Homo sapiens: one gene and its partner. The protein of the gene in region 1 binds, or shares a complex with, the protein of each later gene. Links are inferred from orthologs where the notes say so. Each region holds a gene or a part of one and is shown on either strand. Other genes may lie near its edges. The genes, in order: LATS1 and WWC1.

Region 1 (12,517 bases):
TCAGAGTAAAGAATTTTGCCATTTTGATCCTTTTACTTTGTTTTAGCCACCTATAGTGTTACCAACCATCTTTATCCTTGTCTGCAGGGATAATAATGAACTAATGTAGTGTTTTAAGATAATTTAATGATACTATCTTTCCAAACTTTGTTAGATTTTAAATGTATTATTGACCTGAGACCTTAATGACAAATCACTGCTATTAGACAATTGAAGTGTTCATTTACTTTGTAATTCCAATAATCATAGTTATGGAATTATGGTAAGGTTTTGCTTTTCTGTCCTAATAAATATATATATTTTTTGAGATGGAGTTTTGCTCTTGTTGCTGAGGCTGGAGTGAAATGGCATGATCTCAGCTCACTGCAACCTCCGTCTCTTAGGTTCAAGCAATTCTCCTGCCTCAGCCTCCCGAGTAGCTGGGATTACAGGTGCTCACCACCACACCCAGCTAATTTTTGTATTTTTAGTAGAGATGGGGTTTCACTGTGTTGGCCAGGCTGGTCTTGAACTGACCTCATGATCCACCTGCCTCAGCCTCCCAAAATGCTGGGATTACAGGCTTGAGCCACTGCTCCCGGCTGATTTTTGTATTAGTAGAGACGACAGGGTTTCACCATGTTGGCCAGGGCTGGTCTCGAACTCCTGACCACAGGTAATCAGCCCGCCTCGGCCTCCCAAAGTGCTGGGATTACAGGCGTGAGCCACTTAGTATTTGTAACCATAAGAGAAAGTATATTTTAACAGCATTACATTTCATGCCAATTGACAAGTTTTGCCAATTTTAATAAGAAACTAAGCTTTATGTAATGTAACACCGTAATTTATGAATTTGTTCATTGTCACTGCCTTTATTCATGAAACTGTCAAATAGAGTGTCTTTCAAGGGTTGCAGGATCTTAGAGATAGAAAGTACCTTGGTGATCATCTCCAGCCTAAATTTCATCATCCCTTCTATGGTATTCCCAACAAATTATCATCCAACCTATACTTAAAAACATATGGTGGCCAGGCATGGTGGCTCACGCCTGTAATGCTAGCACTTTGGGAGGCCGAGGTGGGTGAAGCACCTGAGGTCAAGAGTTCGAGATCAGCCTGGCCAACATGGCGAAACCCCGTCTCCACTAAAAATGCAAAAAAAAAATTAACCGGGCGTGGTGGCAGGCATCTATAATCCCAGCTACTTGGGAGGCTGAGGCAGGAGAATTGCTCAAACCCGGGAGGCAGAGGTTGCAGTGACCCAAGATCGTGCCACTTCACTCCAGCCTGGGCAAAAGAGCAAAACGCCATCTCAAAAAATATACATATATAAGGAGATAAAGTTTCCCATTTTCCAATACAGTTTCACATTTGAACAGCCCTAATTGATACAACTTTATGGCAGGGTTTTAGTGTGTGAGTGGGATCCAAAACACTCAATCCTGTAAAAGGGTACAGTCCTATTGTATGTTAACACACTGATGATGTGAGCCTGTGAGATGAGCCAATCACCAGTTGTTATGTTCGAATCTGCTTTGTGTTGGGACGCTTTAATGTCAGGGTTTCACTAAATAAATGAATTTTCATATACTGAACTGAAATTTGCTTCTATCTGTCTTATCTCGGGAGCCACACACACAAAATTCCTCTCATCACATATTCAAATATTCAAAATTGATTATTATAGTCTCTCCAGTGAAGGTTTCCTTCTCTTTCTTTCCATTTTTGGCTAAATCCTTCTTATCCTTCAAGACTCCTTCTAGGTGTCATTTTCTCCAGACAGCTTTTATTGGCCTCCAGCAATCCGGACTAAATTGCACTCTGCTTCAAAAGCCCATTGTGCAGAACTTAAATTGTGCGCAAAGCAGTGTGTTAAGGAGCCTGTCTCCCCCTACTGGGCCACAAGATCAAGAACAGCGCCCATGTCTTCGTGTAACAGTGTTTAACAGTATCTGAACCATAGTAAGCAATGAGTCACTGTTAATTGACCTTGTTTTCACAATCTTGTTTTCCCTTTAAAAATTACTGCTCTTTGTCAAAGGCCTTTTTTTTTTTTTTTGAGACTTTAAGTCTCGCTCTGTCGCCCAGGCAGGAGTGCAATGGCACGATCTCAGCTCACTGCAACCTCTGCCTCCCAGGTTCAAGCAATTCTCCTGTTTCAGCCTCCCGAGTAGCAGGGATTACAGGTGTGCGCCCAGCTAATTTTTTGTATTTTTAGTAGAGACAGGGTTTCACCATGTTGGCCAGGCTGGTCTTGAACTCCTGACCTCAAGTGATCCACCCTCCTCCACCTCCGAAAGTGCTGGGATTATAGGCATGAGCCACCGTGCTCGGCCAGAGGCCTTCTTTTAAGTGTGACTTCCAAGATAAACACTTTTTCATATATTGTCTACCTTGGTGATTATGACAGAAATCTTGCCATCCTGTTAATAGGAATGATATTCCTTTGTAATGCTGTGTCAGCTTTCTGAAGTGTTCACATGTGATACTCCTAAGCCACACTTCCTATATTCGGAAGTTAATACAAATGGTTTTTAATCCTTAATATGGGCCTTTCTTGTTCTAAGAAAAATTTCATTTCAATATAGGAAAGGACTAACTATTTTCTTTGAATCTTTTGTAGAAGCTATTATTTTCTCCATAATTAGCCCAGCGTGCTCTCTCCACTTTCATCCCATTGATTAAGAAAGATGTTTGAGACAGGATTTCACTCTGTCACCCAGGCTGGAGTGCAGTGGTGTGATCCCCAGCTCACTACAGCCTCGATATCCTGGGCCCAAGTGATCCTTCCACCTCGGTCTCCCAAGTATCTGGGACTGCAGGCATGTACCACCAAGCCTGACTAATTTTTGCAATTTTTATTGAGATGGTGTTTCACTATATTGCCCAGGCTGGTCTTGAACTCCTGGGCTCAAGCAATCTACTTGCCTTGGCCTCCCGAAGTGCTAGGATTACAGGCAAGAGCCACCATGCCCAGCCAGAAAGATGTTAAATGAAATGAAGTTTTTAGGCCCACTGCTGGAGTCTTCTCAATTATCAATGAAACATGAATCTCTGGTATTTGGCTACAGTTACTGAAATATTTATAAAACAACCTAATTTATTGACATTTCATTCCATTTATCTTATTTCCAAGGTTATTGTGAGAAAATGTGCTGTAGTTATACTATCAAAAATTTGGCATAATTGAAAAATTCCTGGTCCTTTGTGAATAGTACTTTTATTTAATTGTATTGTGGAAACATCCTTTTAATAATCCACTCTAGACTCTTGTCCAAGAAGCATATTAAATTCAACAGTATATAGTTTATATTGAACCTTTAGTTAAGCTTATGGTGTCAATAGTATCTAGCTCAGACTAATAGAAGGTCTGGCCAGGTGCAGTGGCTCACGCCTGTAATCCCAGCACTTTGGGAGGCCAAGGGGGGTGGATCACCTGAGATCAGGTGTTCAAGACCAACATGGTGAAACCCCGTCTCTACTAAAAACACAAAAATTAGCCTGGCCTGGTGGCAGGCACCTGTAGTCCCAGCTACTCAGGAGGCTGAGGCAGGAGAATTGCTTGAACCCAGGAGGCAGAGGTTGCAGTGAGCGGAGATCGTGCCACTGCACTCCAGCCTGGCAACACAGCAAGACTCCATCTCAAAAAAAGAAAAAATGGGGCTGGGCACGGTGGCTCACACCTGTAATTCCAGCACTTTGGGAGGCGGAGGCAGGCGGATCACCTGGGGTGGGAAGTTCGAGACCAGCCTGACCAACATGGTGAAACCCCATCTCTACTAAAAAAAAAAAAAAAGAAAATTAGCCAGGCATATTGGCACATGCCTGTAATCCCAGCTACTTGGGAGGCTGAGCCAGGAGGATTGCTTGAGCCTGGGAGGCAGAGGTGCAGTGAGTGAGCCGAGATTGCACCATTGCATTCTAGCCTGGGTGACACAGCATGACTCAAAACTAAATTACATTAATTTAAATTTAATTAAAGTATTTTTTAAAAAATTTGTAGCTGCAAAAAATCAGAAGAGTTTTTACCCCTCTATAGGGGTAGAATAAACTAAAAAATCTTAGCCAGAGAAGTCTTAGAATCCATGATACACCAGTAGCAAGGCATACACCTAGCACCCAGATTTGGTTTCTTATACCATATTCCAATAAAAGGAACCAGGGATCCTTGGAGGAATGGTGATCCCTGAACCGGGGCAAGAAATATACAAGATATCTTGGAGAACTGGGCGCGGCAGCTCAAGCTTGTAATCCCGCACTTTGGGAGGCCAAGGCGGGCGGATCGCTTGAGCTCAGGAGTTCAAGGCCAGCCTGGGTGACATAGGGAGACCTGGTCTCGACAAAAAATACAAAAATTAGGCGTGCCAGGCGCGGTGGCTCACGCCTGTAATGCCAGCACTTTGGGAGGCCGAGATGGGCAGATCATCTGAGGTCGGGAGTTCAAGACCAGCTTGACCAACATGGAGAAACCCCTTCTCTACTAAAAATACAAAATTAGCCAGGCATGGTGGCGCATGCCTGTAATCCCAGCTTCTCAGGGAGGCTGAGGCAGAAGAATTGCTTGAACCCAGCAGGCGGAGGTTGCGGTGAGCAGAGATGGCGCCACTGTACTCCAGCCTGGGCAACAAGAGAAACTTGGTCTCAAAAAAAAAAAAAGTTGGACATGGTGGCCTGCGCCTGTAATCCCAAGTTACTTGGATGCTGAGGCATCACCTGAGTCCCGGGGGTTGAGGCTGCAGTGAGCCATAATCATGTCACTGCACTTCAACCAGGGTGACACAGTGAGACCCCATCTAAAAAAAAAAAAAAAAAAAAAAAAAAAGATTTTGGAACATAATGTACTGCCAGAAAAGAAGAAAGTTCTTTTTTTTTTTTTTTTTTTTTTTTTTAGGTGAGGTCTTGCTTTGTCACCCAGGCTGGAGTGCAGTGGCTAGATCTCGGCTCACTGCAGCCTCAGCCTCCTGAGCTCAGGCGATCCTTCTGCCTCAGCCTCCTGAGTAGCTGGGACTACAGTTGTGTACCACCACACCTGGCTGATTTATAGAGATGAGGTCTTGCTATGTTACCCAGGCTGGTCTTGAACTCTTGGGCCCAAGTGATCCTCCTGCCTCAGCCTCCAGAAGTACTGGGATTAAAAAGTGCTGGGATTAAAGGGGTGAGCCACCAAACTGGGCAGAAAGTTCTTTAAAACACACACACACACACACACACACACACACACACACGCCAACTGAAAGAGCTCCAGTGGCCAAAACTGAAACAACTTGAGCAACAAAATAAATACCCAAAGCATAAAATAAATATCCATGAGGCCATACTGACATAACGAGTTTTTGTTTTGTTTATGTTTTTGCTTTTTGTTTTTTTTGTAAGACAGTCTTGCTCTGTCACCCAGACTAGAGTGCAGTAGCACAGTCTCGGCTCACTGCAACCTCCACCTCCTGAGTTCAAGCGATTCTCCTGCCTCAGCCTCCCAAGTAGCTGGGACTATAGGCATGCGCCCACCACGCCCAGCCAATTTTTTTTATTTTTAGTAGAGACGAGGTTTCACCATGTTGGCCAGACTGGTCTGGAACTCCTGACCTCAAGTGATCCGCCTGCCTCGGCCTCCCAAAGTGCTAGGATTATAGGTGTGAGCCACCACACCCGGCCAATAAATGTTTGAATAAATAAAGGAGAAGGGATAAATCTGCAGAATGTCAAATAATTTATTTGAATTCTCCACTTTATTTATTTTATTTATTTATTTTTTGGGGACAGAGTCTGGCTGGATTCTCCACTTTCAAGAAGATGGAGCACAACTCCCCATTCCTTAAGAGTGGGTGGCACATAGTCTGGTGTCTTCCCCTAAGATCGTATGAATTTCTGGAAGGGTTTATGTTCTCAGGGCCACACTGGTCTCCAGACTTCTTCCATGTACACTGCCCCCTAATTCCTTTCTAAGGTCACACAAGCATGAAATCGGATTCTACATCTATTGCTAAAAACAAGCCCCATTTCCATGAAGCACTGAAGAATTGAGTAGGCTGAAACTGGACCAAGATCTTCCATCACAATAATATAAAAACCTGCAAATGTGATGGCAGGTATCACCATTCCCACACATCCAGCACCCACAGTAAGTATTTCCCCAACCATCATCACTCTCCGCACCTACAGTCCCCAATGCTTTGCATCTCGTCAGTTCTCTTCCTGATCATTCCACCTCTGCTTTCCCTGCTCTTTTATCTCTCGCCCTACTTCACAGGAGTAAGCCTCCTAGTCCTACACAGAGCAATTTACTCAGCTCCCTGAATTATCTAGGAATTTCCCCAAAGACTAGAGTTTGTGGAGATACTTTCCTTTAGGTTTAGAGAGCATTGAGGAGCTTAAGTACCATGGGTTGATGACAGACGTGACAGGATTCTGGGGGCAGTCTGCCCTTCCAGATGCATAATCCTTTTGGATAGGGCAAGCAGACCTGTGGACATATTAGATTCCTATAATTCATATAATTTTAGGGCTGAAAAGGTCTTTATGGGGCACCCTTACGTTGAAGAAAGTAAGCCCTGGGGCTCTTTAGTGACCCACCTTGGGTCACATTGCCTTCTACAAACTCTGTGCTTGTAGAAAATAGACTTTCAACCAAATGTTCTTGGAACATAATCTTTTTTTTTTTTTTTTTTTTTTTGAGACGGAGTCTCGCTCTGTCGTCCAGGCTGGAGTGCGGTGGCGCGATCTCGGCTCAATGCAAGCTCCGCCTCCCGGGTTCCTGCCATTCTCCTGCCTCAGCCTCCCGAGTAGCTAGGACTACAGGCGCCCGCCACCACGCCGGGCAAATTTTTCTGGATTTTTTAGCAGAGACGGGGTTTCACCGTGTTAGGCAGGATGTTCTCGATCTCCTGACCTCGTGATCCGCCCGCCTCGGCCTCCCAAAGTGCTGGGATTACAGGCGTGAGACACCGCGCCCGTCCGGAACATAATCTTTTAACGGGTTTTCACATTTGGATTTCTAGATACAGTAAGTAGCCAGTTATTACTTTAACGTCAGAAAAAGATGTCTTTAATTTTTTTGTACTCTGTAGTAGAAAAATTACGAAAGAAGGTACTTGAAAACACTAACTGTATATTTCCTAGAGGAAAAACTGGCAAAGGCGATCTTCACAAAGGGTGGACCGTACCTTATACATCAAACCCAACGATCCCATCCCACACTTTACATTCAGCTTAACCAGAAGTAAAACCTCTTGTCACACCGTCACCGGTATTCCAATTATGGCAATAACGATCTCCTTCTACGGATGCGGTTGACAGATAAGATCTCTAAACCGCTGCTAATCAATCGGTCCTGGCTCAAGCATTTCTTATCTGCCGGATTCAGAAAATACAGATGCTGGAAGCTCACCGGCTTGTTCGGGGAAAGAACGCTAAGCAAGAATAAAATTTTATTTCAAAGCGCCAAAAATCTGGAATTCTGAGGTCCACAGGGAGGTTTCCCAGAGCAACTCAGTTGTTCCCTTCTGAGAACGTAGCTCCGTGAAATGCACATCCCTACTCGGTCCAGAGAAATAGATCAATGGGGAAAAGGATTGAATCAACCAAGTAGGCTGGGCGGGAGACAGCCTTAACCCACGGGCGCGGGCGAGTCGTATGGGCAGGGGCAGGCGGGAGCGACGTGGGGCGACGCTCACGAACGATCAGAGCTGCGGGCGACGCAACGAAGCCCGGAGGCCGCAGGCTGCGCGCTCCCTCGCAGCAGCCGGGCGGGCAAAAGCCCCCAGTCCTCGGCCCCCGCGCAAGCGACGCCGGGAAATGCCCACATCCGGGAAACCTGCAGCGGAGTGCGGCGGCGGCGACACTGAGTGGAAGGCAAAATGGCGGCGGCGGCGGCGGTGGCCTGGTGTTAAGGGGAGAGCCAGGTCCTCACGACCCCTGGGACGGGCCGCGCTGGCCCGCGGCAGCCCCCCCGTTCGTCTCCCCGCTCTGCCCCACCAGGGATACTTGGGGTTGCTGGGACGGACTCTGGCCGCCTCAGCGTCCGCCCTCAGGCCCGTGGCCGCTGTCCAGGAGCTCTGCTCTCCCCTCCAGGTAGGTCCGGGGCTGGCGTAGCGGGTGCGCTCCTCCAGTGCTCGAGTTGGCGGGGCGGTGGCCGCCGGGGCCCACGCCCATCCCCGCTGGCGAGGGTCCAGAGGTTTGGACTGGCGGGCAGAGCCGGCCCGCTCCGGGCCTGACTTGGCTGGTTGCATTGACCCGAGCTGAGCCCTGCCCTGGGGAAGCGAGGGTTGGCCGCGCCCGGTGCTGCAGGAAGAGCCCCAGGCTTTTCGGCCTCGGAGGTGCAGGTTTGGCTGGGTAGAGCCTGTCTTTCTGGCGGCGTGTCTCCCACCCCACCCCCAACACGCGAGTCGGCGGTGTCCAGGAGGGAAGGAACGGGAAAGGTGGTTCTGAAGGAAAATTGCAGTAAAAGAGCTACAGTTCTTTGGATCCCAGAGGGCCTTGATCCTGGGTATACCTTAGAGAAATCCTGGGAGTCTCTTACGTCTAGTTCAGTGTGATTTTAGGTTACTGTTCATAGTTGGAAGAGGTGGGAGAGATGGAGAGGTCTTTATGGAGTAGGAGTGTGTATATAAATACAGCAAATGAAGGAACGACAATTAAGGGAACAGTGTTTTTTATAACCTGAAATAGCTTGTAGCTCAATGAATGCCTCAGATGACTTGATTTATCCCCATTCTGACTTCTCTGTCAATTTCTAAGGGAACAAAATTTAATGTTTGTCAACTCATATGTTAATACGGCTTTTAAAACATGTATCATCCTCCAGAAGTTATTCATAAATCTAGTGAACAATAAGTATAATCTCATGCACAGAAGTAATATTGTATAACTCCAGTTTTGGAAATGGATTTGAATGTTAGCGATCATGAAACTTGTTTGAACTTTATGAATTATTTATTGAAGGTTAATAAATTTATCAGTTTATCAGTTTATCAGAAGTTTCTGATAAACTTAATTTTTTATCAAATTTCCTCCATGAGGAAGAAAAGGTAGGACATTATAATTGGAGTGAATGTTCTGTGCTACGAAAACAAAGCTTATTATCTCTGACGGTAAAATGGGGTAGTTGATTCCTTAAGGCAGTGGAGGAATTTGATTGAACAGTAAAAGAAGTAGCATTGTGTTAGTCCAATTGGCTGCTACTGCAAGAAACTAGATCATGGTCCATGCTTGGAATGGCACATTCTATGCCTAAATATTGATGGAATATGCCTTGCTGCTCACCAAAAAATACTTCTACTACATTTTTAATGTATAATATCTGGCTTTCATTGTGTAGGTCGTTTTTATTTTTGTTTTGTTTTTATTGCAAGTCCTTGTTCTATATAAATAGTGTTGGAACTGTTCTAACCCTGGTTATTTGGTTATTTTAGATGTTTTATTTACATCAATGGGAGATTGTTATACATCACAAAAGTTATTTAGTCATTGAATAACATTTTCGCTAAGTAGGAACAGCAATCATTTTTCAGCATGAAGATACAGCGTTGCTTTCACTTTTGATCTGACAATTATTAGAAAGTGAACTGAAGAAAATGTCAGTATGCAGTTTCCTTTAAAGATGGGAACTCGCTATGTTGCCTGCGCTGGATTCCAACTCCTGGACTCGAGCAATCCTCCCACCACAGCCTCTCAAGTAGCTGGGACTACAGGTGCACTACTGCACCCAGCCAGGGTACCTTTCTGATAAACTTAATTCAACCCAAATTAACACTTTGAAATCTTATGTAATGGTATCATTTTTTTTTTCCTAAGTTGGACAAACTAATCAATGATACTTGTTTGTTGATGTTTGTATTTTTGATGAGGGTCTGAACTTTAAAAAAAAAAAAATGGCGATCTGTCATACCCAGGCAGTTTGATTCCAGAGCTCTTACTTTAACCATGAGATTAAAGTCATTGAAAGTTATGGGGTAGGTAGGTGACATGATCAGAATTGTTTATTAAGACGAATCTGGCCCCATCGTAGTGTGGGTTAAAAAGGTAAGCAGTTTTGCTTTGAAGAATTATTTTAAAAATTCTTTTTGCCTAGTAATAATTTGAATTTTCACATGTCATAGCAGCAAAGATTGTTGAGATTTAGTAATGCCAGTATTAACCATACCTTGTTGTGGGGATTATAAAATTAGTATAACTTTCTAGAAGGCATTCTGACAATAAGTATCAGAATTTTAAATATGTATTCTCTTTGATCCAGCAATTCCACTTCTGGGAATTTATTTTAAGAAAAATGCTCAGCAATGTGTGCACAAGAATTTTTATTGCAGCAATTTTTTTATTAACTAATTTCGTTATGTGCAAGGAATATGCTATATGTATATTATACATATGTTCATTTTATTAAACTATGAGGCATAATAAAATGAACATCCATGAACTTACCACCTGAACTCAGAACAAGAATATTACCAGTATAATTGAAGTTACCAGTTTGCAGTATTATTTTACATTAGCAAAAAAATGAGGAACAACCTAAATGTCCATCAGTCAGGGATTTATAAGTAATAGTACATCTAGCCGGGCGCAGTGGCTCACGCCTGTAACCAGCACTTTGGGAGGCCAAGGAGGGCGGATTACCTGAGGTCTGGAGTTCGAGACCAGCCTGGCCAACATGGTGAAACCCCATCTCTACTAAAAATACAAAAATTAGCTCGGTGTGGTAGCGCGGGTCTGTAGTCCCAGCTACTTGTAAGGCTGAGGCAGGAGAATCACTTGAACCCGAGAGACGGAGGTTGCAGTGAGCTGAGATGGCACCACGGCACTCCAGCCTGCGACAGTGAGACTCTGTCTCAAAAATAAATAAAGAAATAAAGAAATAATAAATAAATAAATAAAAAATAGTACATCTACATGATGAAATTCAATATCGGTATTTAAAGGAATAAGGTTGAACTATCATACTTTATCAATTCTGAAATACCACTAAATCTAAGATAAGCCATCTATTTAGTAGCAATTTTTTAGCAGGAAGAAAGTAAACATAAAGCTTTTATTAATAATAGCATACATTTATTCATTCAATTGTATACCATTTTCGTCTGTCACAATAAAGTTTGAGTCTCAGCCTTATTCACATTCAGAATCTAGGATCCTTCTGAATTACTTCGGTTAGTTAATGCAACATCATGATAACAGGCTGCTTTTCATAATGCTAGTTAATTATCTTAACCTATATTGTCTTTATGATTGTGTGTATAATTTTAAGGTATATTGAAGAATACTGGGGTTTTGCTTGCCTTTCATTTTTGCTTACTTAGTTTTTTTTTCTTCTTCTTAATTGAATTACCTATTGCTGGAAATTAAACAGCTTCTTCTGAAGATAACTCCAAAAGTTTTGGCAGACTTTTGAGTCTGTCTTACCTTTGAAAATTCTGTGATCTTGCTTGAATTTAATAATTACTTATGCCTTTAATTGCATTGTCTATTGAATGACAGTTTGAGTGCACAATACTATGTCACAATGGAATCTTTCAGAACATTTTGTGGACCAGGCATGGTATCATCCCAGTATTTTGGGAGGCTGAGGCAGGAGGAACACTTGAATTCAGGAGTTTGAGACCAGCCTGGGCAACCTAGCAAGATCTCCATCTGTATTTACAAAAATAATAATAGCTGGGCGTGGTAGCTCATGCTTGTAATCCCAGCACTTTGGGAGGCTGAGGTGTGTGGATCACATGAGGTCAGGAGTTCAAGACCAACCTGGCCAACGTGGCAAACCCCTGTCTCTACTAAAAATACAAAAATTAGCCAGGTGTGGTGGTGGGTACCTGTAGTCCCAGCTACTCCGGAGGCTGAGGCATGAGAATCACTTGAACTTGGAAAGCAGAGGTTGCAGTGAGCCAGAATACGACACTGCACTCCAGCCTGAGTGAGACAGTCTCACAAAAAAAAAAAAGTAATAATGATAAAAGAAAAAAAGAGGCCGTGCGCAGTGGTTCATGCCTATATAATCCCAGCACTTCGGGAGGCCGAGGCAGGTGGATCACCTGAGGTTAGGAGTTCAAGACCACCCTGGCCAACATGGTGAAACCCCATCTCTACTAAAAATACAAAAATTAGCCACACATGGTGGCACATGCCTGTAATTCCAGCTACTTGGGAGGCTGAGGCAGGAGAATTGCTTGAACCCGGGAGGCAGAGGTTGCAGTCAGCTGAGATCACGCCATTGCACTCCAACCTGGGCAACAAGAGAGAAACTCCTTCTCAAAAAAACAAAAACAAAACAGAAAAAAAGAAAAAACATTTTGAGCATCATATATGGTGCTGCCAATGAAAATATTACAATTGTCCGGGTATGGTGGCTCACACCTGTAATCGCAGCACTTTGAGAGGCCAAGGCGGGTGGATCACCCGAGGTCAGGCATTCGAGACCAGCCTAGGCAACATGGAGAAACCCCGTCTCTACTAAAAATACAAAAAATTAGCCGGGTGTGGTGGTGGGCTCCTGTAATCCCAGCTACTTGGGAGGCTGAGGCAGAAGAATTGCTTGAACCCGGGAGGCAGA
Region 2 (12,376 bases), on another chromosome or scaffold:
CTGAGAATGGCCTTCTCCTCTGGTCCAGTCTAAAGTAGATTCTCAACCAATCCACACCCTACCAAATTCTTCACAGCACGCTCCTTCCTTCATATTATTAACAACAACTTGCAATTACTTTTTCATGTGTTGACTTGTTTATTACATGTTACTTTACTAAACTGTAAGCTCCACGGGACCAGAAATCACCCTTATGTCTCAATACTTGTCTGGCAGACAATAGGCAGACAAAAAAGTTCTTGTGGAATAAATGAATAACAGCTGAACAGGGAAGGAGACCTATATTTAAAAGAGCTTCTGCATTTCAGAAGCTGAGCAAAGCACTTCACTTGTATCATTTCATATAGTTGTCACAAGTCAATAGTGAGGCAGCATTGTTGCTCTCATTTTTCTTGTTGGTGATCTCATTTTACAGGTGAGGAAACTGAGGCTCAGAGAGATGCAGTCTCATGCCGACAGTCACACACTGACCAAGATGCAGAGCCAAGTTTCAGATCTGGATTGCTTTTTCTGCCCATGTATTTTCTACTACTCTGCCCAGCCACCCTGTTGAGACAGGTTGTTGTATAAACCCAACCCTATACCCTTCTTGCCAGGTGATTTGTAAAATTCACTCCATTTGCTTATCTTTGCAGTGGTGAAGTTCTGAGAATGAGGTGTGAGACCATGTACAGTGGACAGGTAAAGTGCATTTCATTCCATGCATCTCCAAGCAGTTGGGCTAGAGTTTAATTTAAGCGCCTGGGTACCATGGCGATGCAAGCTCTATAAATACCGAGAGAGGCTTCTTTCAGCCAGTCTGCTGGTGACTGCACTTGTACCCCCACCCCCGTCTCCCACCAGGGCTCCGCCTCTGCTGTTGAGTAGAGGAACAGAGGAAAGCACTGCTTTGCAAGAACTCCCGCCCTCTGCTCATGGGCTTGCTCTCTCCTCTCCACACCCCCACCCTTGAAACTGAGATTTCATCTCCACCTCCTCCTTTGGTGCATAATTCATTTCCTCTTCAGTGAAAGACACAACAGCTCCCAGTCCCCAGAGAATCCCTTGATGAGAGAGTCAGAAATAGGATGGACTCAACCTCTCCTGGCAGCCTCAGCCTCTCACATAGGAGAAATCAGCTCAGTTAAGAGTTTGAGACCAGCCTGGCCAACATGGCGAAACCTCGACTCTACTAAAAATAACAAAAATTAGCTAGGCATGGTGGCGGGCACCTGTAATCCCAGCTACTCAGGAGGCTGAGGCAGGAGAATTGCTTGAACCAAGGAGGCAGAGGTTGCAGTGAGCCGAGATTGCGCCACTGCACTCTAGCCTGGGCAACAGAGTGACACTCTGTCTCAAAAAAAAAATAATAAATAAATAAATAAATAAATAAATAAATAAATAAATAAAAAGAACCAGCAAGGAAACAAGTGGGGAGGAAAGACAGGCAACAAAGGGAGAAAAGTACCCCTCTTCCCACAGAGACCGCTGAGCCTGTGAAATCCCCTACACCAATCCCCTTGGGGGGTCTTGTGGACAGCACTGGGCAGGCAATGGGGGATCAGGGCACTATCTCCTCCTCTTAGAATTGAGAACCCCACCTCAACTCTGCCCTCTCATTGTCAGCTCAGCTGTGACCAGTTTTAGCATGCCCTCATCAACCTCCATGGCCTCCTCCATCCACTCCAAATAGACGCACAACCCAAACATAAGTAGGAGTTTAAGGAGAGTCTCCTGGCCACCCCACCTCCTTTCCCAACCAGACCATGGCCCTGAAATCTCTCCTTCACAGGCACTCTAAAGCCCACACTGGGAGTCCAGAAGCAAAAACTCACTAGAAGCAGCTAAGTTGATATCTACATGACTACAGAAAAGTCACTTTGCCTCTCTGAATCTCAGTTTGCTCATCTATGAAATGGAACCAGCAGGAACTAGGGCAGTAAATCATTATTCACACAAACTCCATTTCTCTGTTTGTAAAATGAGTAGGCTGTGCAAGACTTGTTTCAGTTGATTTCCCAGCACTGAATTAAGCACGGAGGACCGAGAGGTAAATAAAAAACCATCTCTTCTGCCTCGGCTCTCGTGTTACCAAGGTTTCTTCCACCCTCATTTTCTCTGGCTTAGGACGTGTTTTCCCATCATTGGAAAAAAAGAGTCCACAGTACATTTATGAACCTCAAATAATGCATGACTCAAGAAAGGGGACATTATTGGCTCCATCATAGAACATAACTGTGCATTCCCCAGGATGTGTGGGAGGGACGGCATGAGGTAGGGAGGTAGAGTCATGGAGCAGGAAGCAAAATCTCAGCAGAGGTTCTCAAAGCCTCAGTTTCCCCTGAAGAATGCAGATGCGAACAGGAAACTGGACTTGCTAACATATCTGTTCCTTTGTTTTATATTTAATTTCTCCTCTTTACCATCTTCATGGAATATGTGACTCTGGCTCTCTGAAACACTCTAAAACACGTGTGGATAACGGCCTTTCTTCCCTGCAGTTGCAGTGGAGAAAAGGGTTCAAGTGCGCATCGTTTTTAAAAACAAGACAGCCTGTCTCAGGCTCAGGTGATTCCTCTGGGCCACCGGGATGTGGCCTTTGTCATTAGAAAGGCTTGGCCTGTGGTCACTTCTGCACTGCCCAACACTGCCCAAGCCTGTCTCCTTCAACTCCACACGCGGGCAGCCAGACGCAGCCCCAGGAGGGTGGCCAGGAGAGGGCTGGGCTTCTTGTCTTCAGTTCGGATTCCTGCAGTTCAGTCACCTGTAGAGTAACGTCCAATTCAGCCTATCATGTGGCTGAGCCGGTTTTACCTTTAATCTCTTTCACGTTTGCCCTCAGCCTCGCAGAATGTCCGGGATGATTCACGCGCCATCACATGGGGCAGGCAGTCATCTGTTTTATTACCTCACCCTGCTTGCCGCTTCTGCGAGATAACCTGGGATTCTTTCGTTGGGGGTGGATGGGAGGTAAAAAGAGCGAACAGACCTAGGCCTTAATTCAGGAGTCAATTCCTGCTCTGGTCTCTCTTTCTTGCTTCCCAGGCCAGGTCAAAAGGTCCAAAGAAGCAAGCCATTTGGAAAATGCCAGGGTTTGGGTGGCTGGACTAAAACGAAAGTGGGACTTGGCAGTCTAAAAGGTGTTTTCTCTTCACAATCAATGCCAACCAGTAAAAAGGCTTGGTTGAAAAATAAGGCCAAAAAAAAAAAAATCAGCAATTAGGAGGACTGTTGCAAGCAAGCAGGCATAATTTTCAGAAGGGGAAAGGACGTGGATTTGTGTTTTGAACAGAAAATACTTCAAATGGTCCACATTTCATAGAGGTGTGTCTGCTGCCAGGCACGGTGCTCCGAATGCACCGCACCACAGCCCCTGAGATGAAGGCGTGCTGCTGAGTGCCAAGCCCTCACATTTCTCCTCCTGCTTTGCCCTAACCACAAGCCCAAAGGAGTCCATATTGTTATGTGATTTTTTTTCAAATCAAAGACTGAGACTTCAGTGAAGCAAGCTGCCCAAGGTCACACAGCTAGAAAACCGGGTGGGCTTGGGACCCAAACAGCCTGATTCTAGAGCTCTTGCTTCTCAACCAAAAAACTATGAAGCAAACATCAACAGAGATGAACATTTGTCAGTATCAGTCATGTTCCACATCCCAACCATGGGGAAGTTCTGAGGCTGCAGAGTGATTTAAAAAAGAAAGAAAGTCTCCAATCTGGGTGACAGAGCGAGACTCCGTCTCAAAAATAAAAAGAAAGAAAGAAAGAAAGTCAGCCAGGCAAGGTGGCTCATGTCTGTAAGCCCAGCACTTTGGGAGGCTGAGGTGGGCGGATCACCTGAGGTCAGGAGTTCGAGACCAGCCTGGCCAATATGGTGAAACTCCAGCTCTACTGAAAAATACAAAAATTAGCTGGGCGTGGTGGCGCAGGCCTGTAATCCCAGCTACTCTGGAAGCTGAGGCAGGAGAATTGCTTGAATCTGGGAGGCAGAGGTTGTAGTGAGCCGAGATCATGCCACTGCACTCCAGCCTGGGGGATGGGGGGAGACTCCATCTCAAAAAAAGAAAAAAAGAAAGTATAGGTTAATAACTGAGAACACTGCACTAGAGTCAGACCTAGTCTGTCTTATGAGCTCTGTATCCCAGGCCAACAACAAAGCATCTTGGAGCCTCATCTGTAAAATGGGTATAATAAATAGACTTTCCTATGCCAGAGGGTTGTTATGAAGATTGAGATCATGTATTCAAAGAACCTAGCACCAGGTTGGCTTTGCTTTGGGGCTACTGCTCTAATCAATAGTGGGTTTTTATGTAGTAAAGGCTTGACCCAAACAGAGGAAGTGTAGAGGGCTGTGGGAATTCCCCCATAAAGGAATGGGGAATTCCAACTTTTGGGTGTTGAGGGCCAGTCTGAGGCTGGTGTCCCTGGACTCTGGTGCCTGGTATTTATGGAATGAAGGAGGGCCAAGCACTGAGCCCCGAGGCCTGGCCTCAGGGAAGGAATTAACTATGAAGAAGGCATTTGGAGGCGAGGCTCACTCTGGTGGGTCTTTTCTGTCAAGAGGAGATGAGACCACAAACATGATTCCCTCTCTGGCTCAGCAACACCCTGGTCCATACAGCACAGGGTGCTGGTTCTTCTGGAAGACCGTGGGGCTCAGGCAAGAGAAGACACCCAACTGGGCTTCATTCGACCAGTCCAGCTTCCTGCCATATGCCGAGGGCAAAAAAGGGTTAAATTCCCACTCAGTACACAGATGTAAGAGGAGATGGGGAAGTGAACAGCCAGTTGATCATTCACTCAATCATGCTAGCTTGCTTTTTGTATTTAATGCTACATTTTAAATTTATTTATTTATTTATTTGAGACAGAGTCTCGCTTTGTTGCCCAGGCTGGAGTGCAGTGGTGCGATCTTGGCTCACTGCAACCTCCACCTCCCAGGTTGAAGTGATTCTCATGCCTCAGCCTCCCGAGTAGCTGGGACTACGGGCGTGCACCACCACGCCCAGCTAATTTATTATTATTATTTTTTAGTAGAGATGGGGTTCACTATGTTGGCCAGGCTGGTCTGAAATCCTGACCTCAGGTAATCTGTCTGCCTCACCCTCCCAAAGTGCTGGGATTACAGGCGTGAGCCACCGCACCCACTAATTCTACATTTTTAATTTCTCAAGAAACATTGTGTCTCTGATTGTTTTATTCTCTTGAACATTTTTCAAGATGGAATTTTGCTTTGCTTACTTTCTTCTTTTTCATAGCCCCACTTCTCCCAAATCCATAACACACCTACCTCAAAGTATCACAGGAAAGAAAGCCTGTGAAGCTGCTAGCCACAGCCTGTCACAAGTAAGTCCTCAATTTAGCTAACAATAACAATGGCATTACTATTACTTTTACAAAGTGTTTTCCCTGACACCCTCTGGAAGTCCTCCCAGGAAAGCGGATCCACAGCGCTCCTAATTTTAGGGACCCTGAGGGGAGCCAGCTACATTTCCAAATGGTGGGGAAGGGTGGAGGGTGGGCGAAACGTCGTAGGGAGAGTTGAATAGAAGGAGACAGATGGTGCCTGTGTTGGGGGAAGGGACCAGAGATCCTGGAAAACTTATGTTTCCCAATTCGCAAGAATGTTTCCATTTAACCACTTCTTGCCTGACTCCTGATTCTACACCACAGAAAAGCAGGGAGTTTTTAAGATTTGGGGCCACCTGTGCCGAGAGCCTGGCTACTCCGGGTGGAGAGAGACAGGAGCGTTTTAAGTACAGGCAGAGCGGTTTTTGGCCCAGCCCCCTAGGTCTGGGACGCAGGTGAGGGGCGGTCTCTCCTTCCCCTGGCAGGGGCAGCGTAAGGGTGGCCGGCGGCTGGGACTGTCCCACGAGGGGGCGCGTCTCGGGCCCTAGGACCCGCCCTCGAGGCGCTGCGCGCGGGGAGGGGACCCGGGAACCCAGGCGCCCGGCGCTCCGCCTCCCGTTTCCGGGGCAGCGCGGTTACCTGCACCGCCCGAGCCGCACCTGGCGGAGGCAGAAGTCACAAACCCGGCGAGCTCAGAGCGGTGGAGCGGAGAGGAGGGACGGCACCCGGCTGCAGGGAGGAGGGAGGCGGCAGCGGCAGCGGCGGCGTGGAGGGCGCAGCGCGCCGCGCGGCGGAGGAGGGCAGACGGCGGCGGCGGCGGCGCTCGGCTCGCTCTGCCCGGCCGGCTGGGCGCGCACCCGGGCTCGCACCGCGCCGCTGCGGACGCACATGGCAGCGTGAGAGGCCGGCGGCGGGAGGAGCGGGCGGCGCCGGGTCGGGGCTGCAGGGCCGCATGGACAGCGGCGCCACCCCGGCCGGCCCCTACTAGGGCCCCCCATCTGCGGGCGCCACCCCCCGGATCATGGTGCCTCGGCGGCCGCCCGGGCTAAGAGCGGCCGGCTGGAGCCGCTGAGCCCCCGCTGCGGCCGGGAGCTGCATGGGGGAGCGCCGGCAGCGCTTGGGAAGATGCCCCGGCCGGAGCTGCCCCTGCCGGAGGGCTGGGAGGAGGCGCGCGACTTCGACGGCAAGGTCTACTACATAGACCACACGAACCGCACCACCAGCTGGATCGACCCGCGGGACAGGTAGGACCCTGGAACCCTCCTCCGTGCCCCCACACCCCCGCCTGGGCCCCCACCTGCCCCTGGAGCCGCCGGCCGGGACTGGGAGGGGGCAGGGGAGCTCTGCGTGCCTCTTGAGCTCTCTTCAGTTCGCCACCCCCTGCTCCCCCCAACCTTCTGGAGCGCTGCTCCCGCCTCAGTGGGCCACCGAGAGGAGGCGCCTGCCGGGGAGCTGGCCCAGGCTGCCCCACCGCCATCCCCAGTTGGAGGACTTAGGCCCCAGCCGGCACCTGCCCGGAGTTTTGACCTTAAGCTCTAGCCCCGCCCGCCCCCTTTAGGAAGAGAGGTCGGGCGGGGGCGGGGGTTGGGGGAGCGACCTAGCCGGGTGAAGCCGGGTCTTCCCGGGGAGGCTTCCACCCAGCGTGGGGGGTGGGCGGATGGGGATGGGGAAGTGTCCGGTTAGAGGGGGTGGTCAAGACCCCAGGATTCCGTGGGAGACCACTGGAGAGAGGGCACTCGGCGCAGAGGAAGGCAACCTGAGGTGTGCTTTTTGACAGGTGCCTTGGAAGCTGCTGAGAACAGCACAGGGGCAGCCAGGGGGCCCTGGAACCCGAGGGTGGGGAGGAAGTGAAGAAGCGGGGGAGGGCAGATGAGGGAGACTGGTTATCCAGGAATCTGGCAGCAACTTGGAAGCTGTTAGGATGGAGATGGAGGTGAGAGGCCTCCCGGAAAGCCTTGCCCCTCGCCTCTTTCTCCTCTCTTTCTTCCCTGATCGGGGAAGGGGGCGGCGAGGCTCCTCAGCCCTGCACCAGCGGGACCTGACCTTGGTGGGTACCAGGCCGCTGTAGGTTGAGATAATGTGCAGAGGCAGATGGAGCCTGAGATAGCTCGGTGTGGCTCTTACCTCTCCAGACTTTCTCCTGGTTGTTTGGCATTTCTTTGCTCACATGCTGCACACACACACATACATTCACCCTCTCCATGTATGTCCTAGAGTCCCCGGACCACGATGTTGTTGACACGGTCTGTGGGCAGAGTGTCTTGGGGAATGCGGACTTTAAACCTTGTCTGTGACCTTGGGGGTCAGGTCCCTGTAAAGCAACCAAGGTGAATTTCTTGGACTCTTCATCTTGTGTGGTGGGGGTGGAGGTGTCCCAGAAGTGTATGTAGCAAGATGTGGGTCAAAAAAAGAATATAAGCGGAAAGAAAATGAGAGTTGAGATTCTCGGTAGTTTCTGGGAGCACTTACTTTCATTCATTCATTCATTCGTTCATTCAGCGCTTCCTGGATGCCTCCTCTACACTCAGCACCATGCTGAATGTCTCATGAATGTAATCTGGAAGGTAAATATTTAGTGCTAGAGAGCATCTCTTAGGCAAGCTGCTTCAACCTCTGAGCCTCAGTTTCCCTGTTTGTCAGATGGGGGAGCCCACCATTTCCCTGAATTTAAAAAGTTTGCTTGGAAGGGAATATTGGGATGCTTAAAACTTGGAAGGGACGTACATCAGCGCCCAACTCCCATTTGAAACATAAGAGAAAATTTGAAGCCCAGAGGTGTGATTTGCTCAAGTATTTTGATTTTTCTGCCATTCTGCGTACCAGTTCTTCACCAGCTCTGAAGTTCTAACCTGCAAACTTGTCACCCTGACACACTGCTTCCCCACCCTTACTCGGGTCAGTTGCCAGCTCTGCTACTGTGTTGGTGAACTTGGCAGCACCTTTTCTCTTGTCCTTTTCTCAGAACAGACACAAGTTCAAACATATGTGACCTGCCCCAATTTAGGTCCCTGTAGTTTACGGAGGCCTGTGTGCTGTTAGCAGGTGGACGTCCTGTTGGAGGGAAAGGACCGCCCCTGCCAACACTGATAATCATGCATCTGGGGACTTCTAATACAGCAATAGGAGGCCCCTCTCAACAGTAATTCTTTACCCTTGGAAAAGGGTAAGTAAGTAGCTTCTATGAAGAACTGATTGGCTGGAGCACAATCTCCCAAATTTTAGTGTTACATGGACCACCTCCATGATTTTTTTTTGCTATATCCACCTGTGCTATTGCTTACTTACTCCTTGACTTTAGATCAACTCACTTTAAAAATATGTGTACCATTTTCACAAATGGGAAACTAGTTATATCTATTGTCATACAGGGGAAACAAAAAAGATAGGCAAACAAAAAAAACAAAAAACCAGGGTTAGTATATTTTAGCTAGGTACTGTGGCCAGCCTAAGGCCACAGCACCTCACCTGCCCAGCCTTTGTTTTTAAGCAGATTGGCAAGCCATGGAGAGGCGGCAGAAACATAGTGGCACTTAGGTGAGCAGCTCACCTTCTTCATCTTGTGTCATTGGTTTTTTTGTTTGCTTTTGGTTTTTTTGTTTATTTGTTTTTGTTTTTTGGAGACAGAGTCTCGCTCTGTCGCCCAGGCTGGAGTCCAGTGGTGCGATCTTGGCTCACTGCAAGTCTGCCTCCTGGGTTCAAGCGATTCTCCTGCCTCAACCTCCCGAGTAGCTGGGACTACAGGTGCACGCCACCACATCCAGCCAATTTTTTGTATTTTAGTAGAGATGGGGTTTCACTGTGTTGCCCAGGCTAGTCTTGAACTCCTGAGCTCAGGCAATCCGCCCACCTCAGCCTCCCAAAGTGCTAGGATTACAGGCGTGAGCCACCACGCTTGGCCTTGGGTCACTGGTTTATAAACTTCATCTCTGTACCTCCTTGTCATCCCACCTGGACTGGGGTGGTATTGGGCCCCTGAACTTGGGGTCCTGAGGGGGTCTCATGTCAACTCTGGGGGTCACTATTGTGGTCCAGCTTTGTATGTTTTGGAAAAGTGCTAATTGGAGGATAGCCACTTGTGGTTTTCTGGAATTTCCCTCCGGCATACCCCATTTTTGCCTTTTAGTTCTGTCTGTGTGGCCTTGGGCAAATCACTTGACCTCTCTGAGGTTTGAGTGCTTGAGAAGTGGGTTGGTTAGATGGTCTTCAAGGGCCTGCCAGCTCTTAAATATTATTTCAAACCCTTCTGCCGCTCTTACCTCTCCAGACTCCATGAGAGGAGAAGGGGGAACAGGGATGGGCTATGAGAAAAAGGAAGAAGAAATTTAACAAAGCTGAAAAGAGCCAAACTTATTCCGGGGGGTGGTGGGTTGGGGAGAAAAAATTCTGCCAAGGTAGTTATATCCCTGCAATTAATTAATGCTGTGAGACAAAAAATTGCACTAAAAATTTCTACTCCGTGTGTGTGTGTGTGTGTGTGTGTGTGTGTGTGTGTTTATTTGCCTTGGATTTTTCCTTACCTGAATCATGGAGATGCCCACCCATTCCCCTGAATTTAAAAGAAGTAAGTCAAATGGTCCTTCAGTCAGAAAAGTGATTTCTTAGCCACCAAGGACAAAATAGCGTCTCTGGTTACCAACCCTAAAGAATGTCTTGGCACATTCCTCCCTCTGGGGCTGAGCTGTTTTGTGTGCTGGCCGGCCAGGAGCTGCTGGGGGTAGGGAATCCAGTTTTCAGCTTCCCCTTTCACCAGGGGGTTGGAAGAGCAGCCAAGCAGCCAGCCTTGCCAACTCTCTCCCCTTCTCACCCAGGGGAAGACTGGGAGGCCGAAATTCCTGAGGATGGTTGTCCCAACAACCGGAGAGGGTCCAGTGGGCAGCTTGGGTCCTGCCCACTGGGCCAAAGGCTCCAGCAGCACCACAGGCTTTTCCTGAGTCAAGGCCAGCCTGGGAAGGTGACAGGCCCTTCGGGAATCAGGTGCTGTGGATCAGGTCTGAACAGCACCTTGGAGCCGTGCTCCTTTTGCGGAGTAACTCTGGGTGCTTTTGTGAGCTCTAGCGAAGGGGCCAGCGTCCTGTGTATTTCACTTCGTGGTATGCAAAACAAATGCACCGATTGTTCTCGGAGGAAGAATAGATCTTTGGGGCTGGCCCTCCCAGAGAAGGTTCCTGCAGCCTGATTCCTTCTTGTTGTGCGATTTGTATTCAGACCTTCTCATAGGAACCACCTGGGAATTCTGGGCAGTTTCTGGGTCTGTATGGTAAGTACCGGAGGCACACATGGCTGGAGAGGCCATGCTGAGAGGATCCAGCAACTTCTCCCATGACTTGAGGATCTTTTGCTAACCCTGTTATTTCAGAAATAATTGATATGGTAGGAAGTCAGGTCTACAGCAGTCAAAAAGTCTAAACCTCTGTCAGGTCACAGACCCTTATGAGACTGATAAAGGTTCAGAACTCTTCCTAGAGAAAAGGTTTTTGCACATAATTTCAGGGACCTCCTGGACCCCAGGTTCATAACCCCTGCCATAGATAAGCTTGGAAATTGCTTGTCACCATGGAAAGGCCTCCTGTTTAGCTAGGTAGCAAATAATGATTGGGTATTTACTATATTCAGGCAGTCTGCTGAGAGCTTTACATAGGTTATCTCTTTAAATCCTCCTAACAACCCTGGGACTAGGTACAATTATTACCCACCTGAACTACCCAATGCTCAGGGAGGCTTGGTAAAGCCCCTCAACCTTTGTGGAGCTGTGATGTGAATACTAGGCGGGCTCACACCAGAACACACATTTCTAACCACTGCCTCATTTTACTTCCTGCTGAGTTAGCTGCAGAATCAAGACCACTGCTCCAGTGCCTAAGGAATTTGGCCTTGGGAAATGGAGCCAAAACAGGCATGATTTCACTTACCTGTGACCATTCTGGTGTGGTCAGGTCATGGGCACCTAGAGGGCAAATGTAGATAAGTGAGTCTTTGGCTCCTGGAATCTTGGATCTGCCACTTGCTACCTGAGTTACCTTGGTAATTGACATATTGTCCCTGAACCTTGCGTTTGCCTTCTAATGAATGGAAAGATGTCCATCAACCATCAAGGGTAGTTATGGGTGATAAGTAAGTGAAGGTAGGTAGGGCAGCAAGCCTGAAGTCTGACATGCAGGGGACACTGAGGAATGCCAGTTCCTTTAACTTTTCCTAGAACGTACCTGTGAAACAGCAGCATCAAATGGATGCTGCATATCTACCCAATTTTGCAGCTGGAGTGGACCTTTCTGTTCGTGAAATCCAGGCCTCTCATTTCACTGATGAAATTGAGAACCAGCCTGGTGCGGTGGCTCATGCCTATAATCCCAGCACTTTGGGAGGCTGAGGCGGGCAGATCACCTGAGGTCAGGAGTTCGAGACCAGCCTGACCAATATGGAGAAACCCCATCTCTACTAAAAGTACAAAATTAGCCAGGCATGGCGGTGCATGCCTGTAATCCCGGCTACTCGGGAGGCTGAGGCAGGAGAATCGCTTGAATCCGGGAGGTGGAGGTTGTGGTGAGCCAAGATCGCGCCATTGCACTCCATCCTGGGCAACAAGAGCGAAACTCCATCTCAAAAAAAAAAAAAAAAAAAAAGAAATTGAGAACCAGAGACAAGTGACTTGCCCAAGGTCACACAGAAAATAAATGCCAACCTCGAGTCTAGTAAAAGTTTCTTTTTTCTCTTTCTCTTATATAAATTTTTTACTAAAAGTCAGATCTATGTCCTTCTCATCAATGATAATAATTCACACATATTTTATGTGCATGGCTGCATTATTCTCCATAATCGTTTTTGATTGTATAGACCAGGAAGTTGCATTCATCGTGCGTCACAATCATTTGTGAGTTGTGTCATAGGAATTTGCTGTATGTCAAATGATTACATTTCCAGTGATTGCAAGTGAATTCCTATTTTTATAATCAATTAAAATGGATTTAGAGTTATTGTCAGTCTAATGTCATATTCCAACAAGCTTTGTTTTATTTTATTTTATTTTATTTTGAGACTGAGTCTTGCTCAGTCA

What was found.
Region 2: the proteins of LATS1 (region 1) and WWC1 are in contact, whole or in part, in a crystal structure (PDB 6J68), measured with the Mus musculus proteins. The link is inferred for Homo sapiens from one-to-one orthologs. Residues at the interface, in NP_034820.1 of Mus musculus: Ala546, Glu547, Ala548, Pro549, Ser550, Tyr551, Gly553, Pro554, Pro555, Pro556, Pro557, Tyr558, Leu562, Leu563; in NP_740749.1 of Mus musculus: Asp17, Tyr23, Ile25, Asp26, His27, Arg30, Thr31, Thr32, Ser33, Trp34, Asp64, Val67, Tyr70, Ile72, Asp73, His74, Lys77, Thr78, Thr79, Gln80, Ile81.

Annotation. Positions count from the first base shown.
Region 1 is NC_000006.12:149,713,378-149,725,894, reverse strand, and holds the start of LATS1 (serine/threonine-protein kinase LATS1), read left to right. Parts: upstream 1-7,793; 5' UTR 7,794-8,046; exon of another isoform or gene 8,047-8,291; intron 8,292-9,469; exon of another isoform or gene 9,470-9,688; intron 9,689-12,517. UniProt on the Homo sapiens protein: Negative regulator of YAP1 in the Hippo signaling pathway that plays a pivotal role in organ size control and tumor suppression by restricting proliferation and promoting apoptosis.
Region 2 is NC_000005.10:168,285,703-168,298,078, forward strand, and holds the start of WWC1 (protein KIBRA), read left to right. Parts: upstream 1-5,942; 5' UTR 5,943-6,450; coding exon 6,451-6,569; intron 6,570-7,003; exon of another isoform or gene 7,004-10,582; intron 10,583-12,376. UniProt on the Homo sapiens protein: Regulator of the Hippo signaling pathway, also known as the Salvador-Warts-Hippo (SWH) pathway.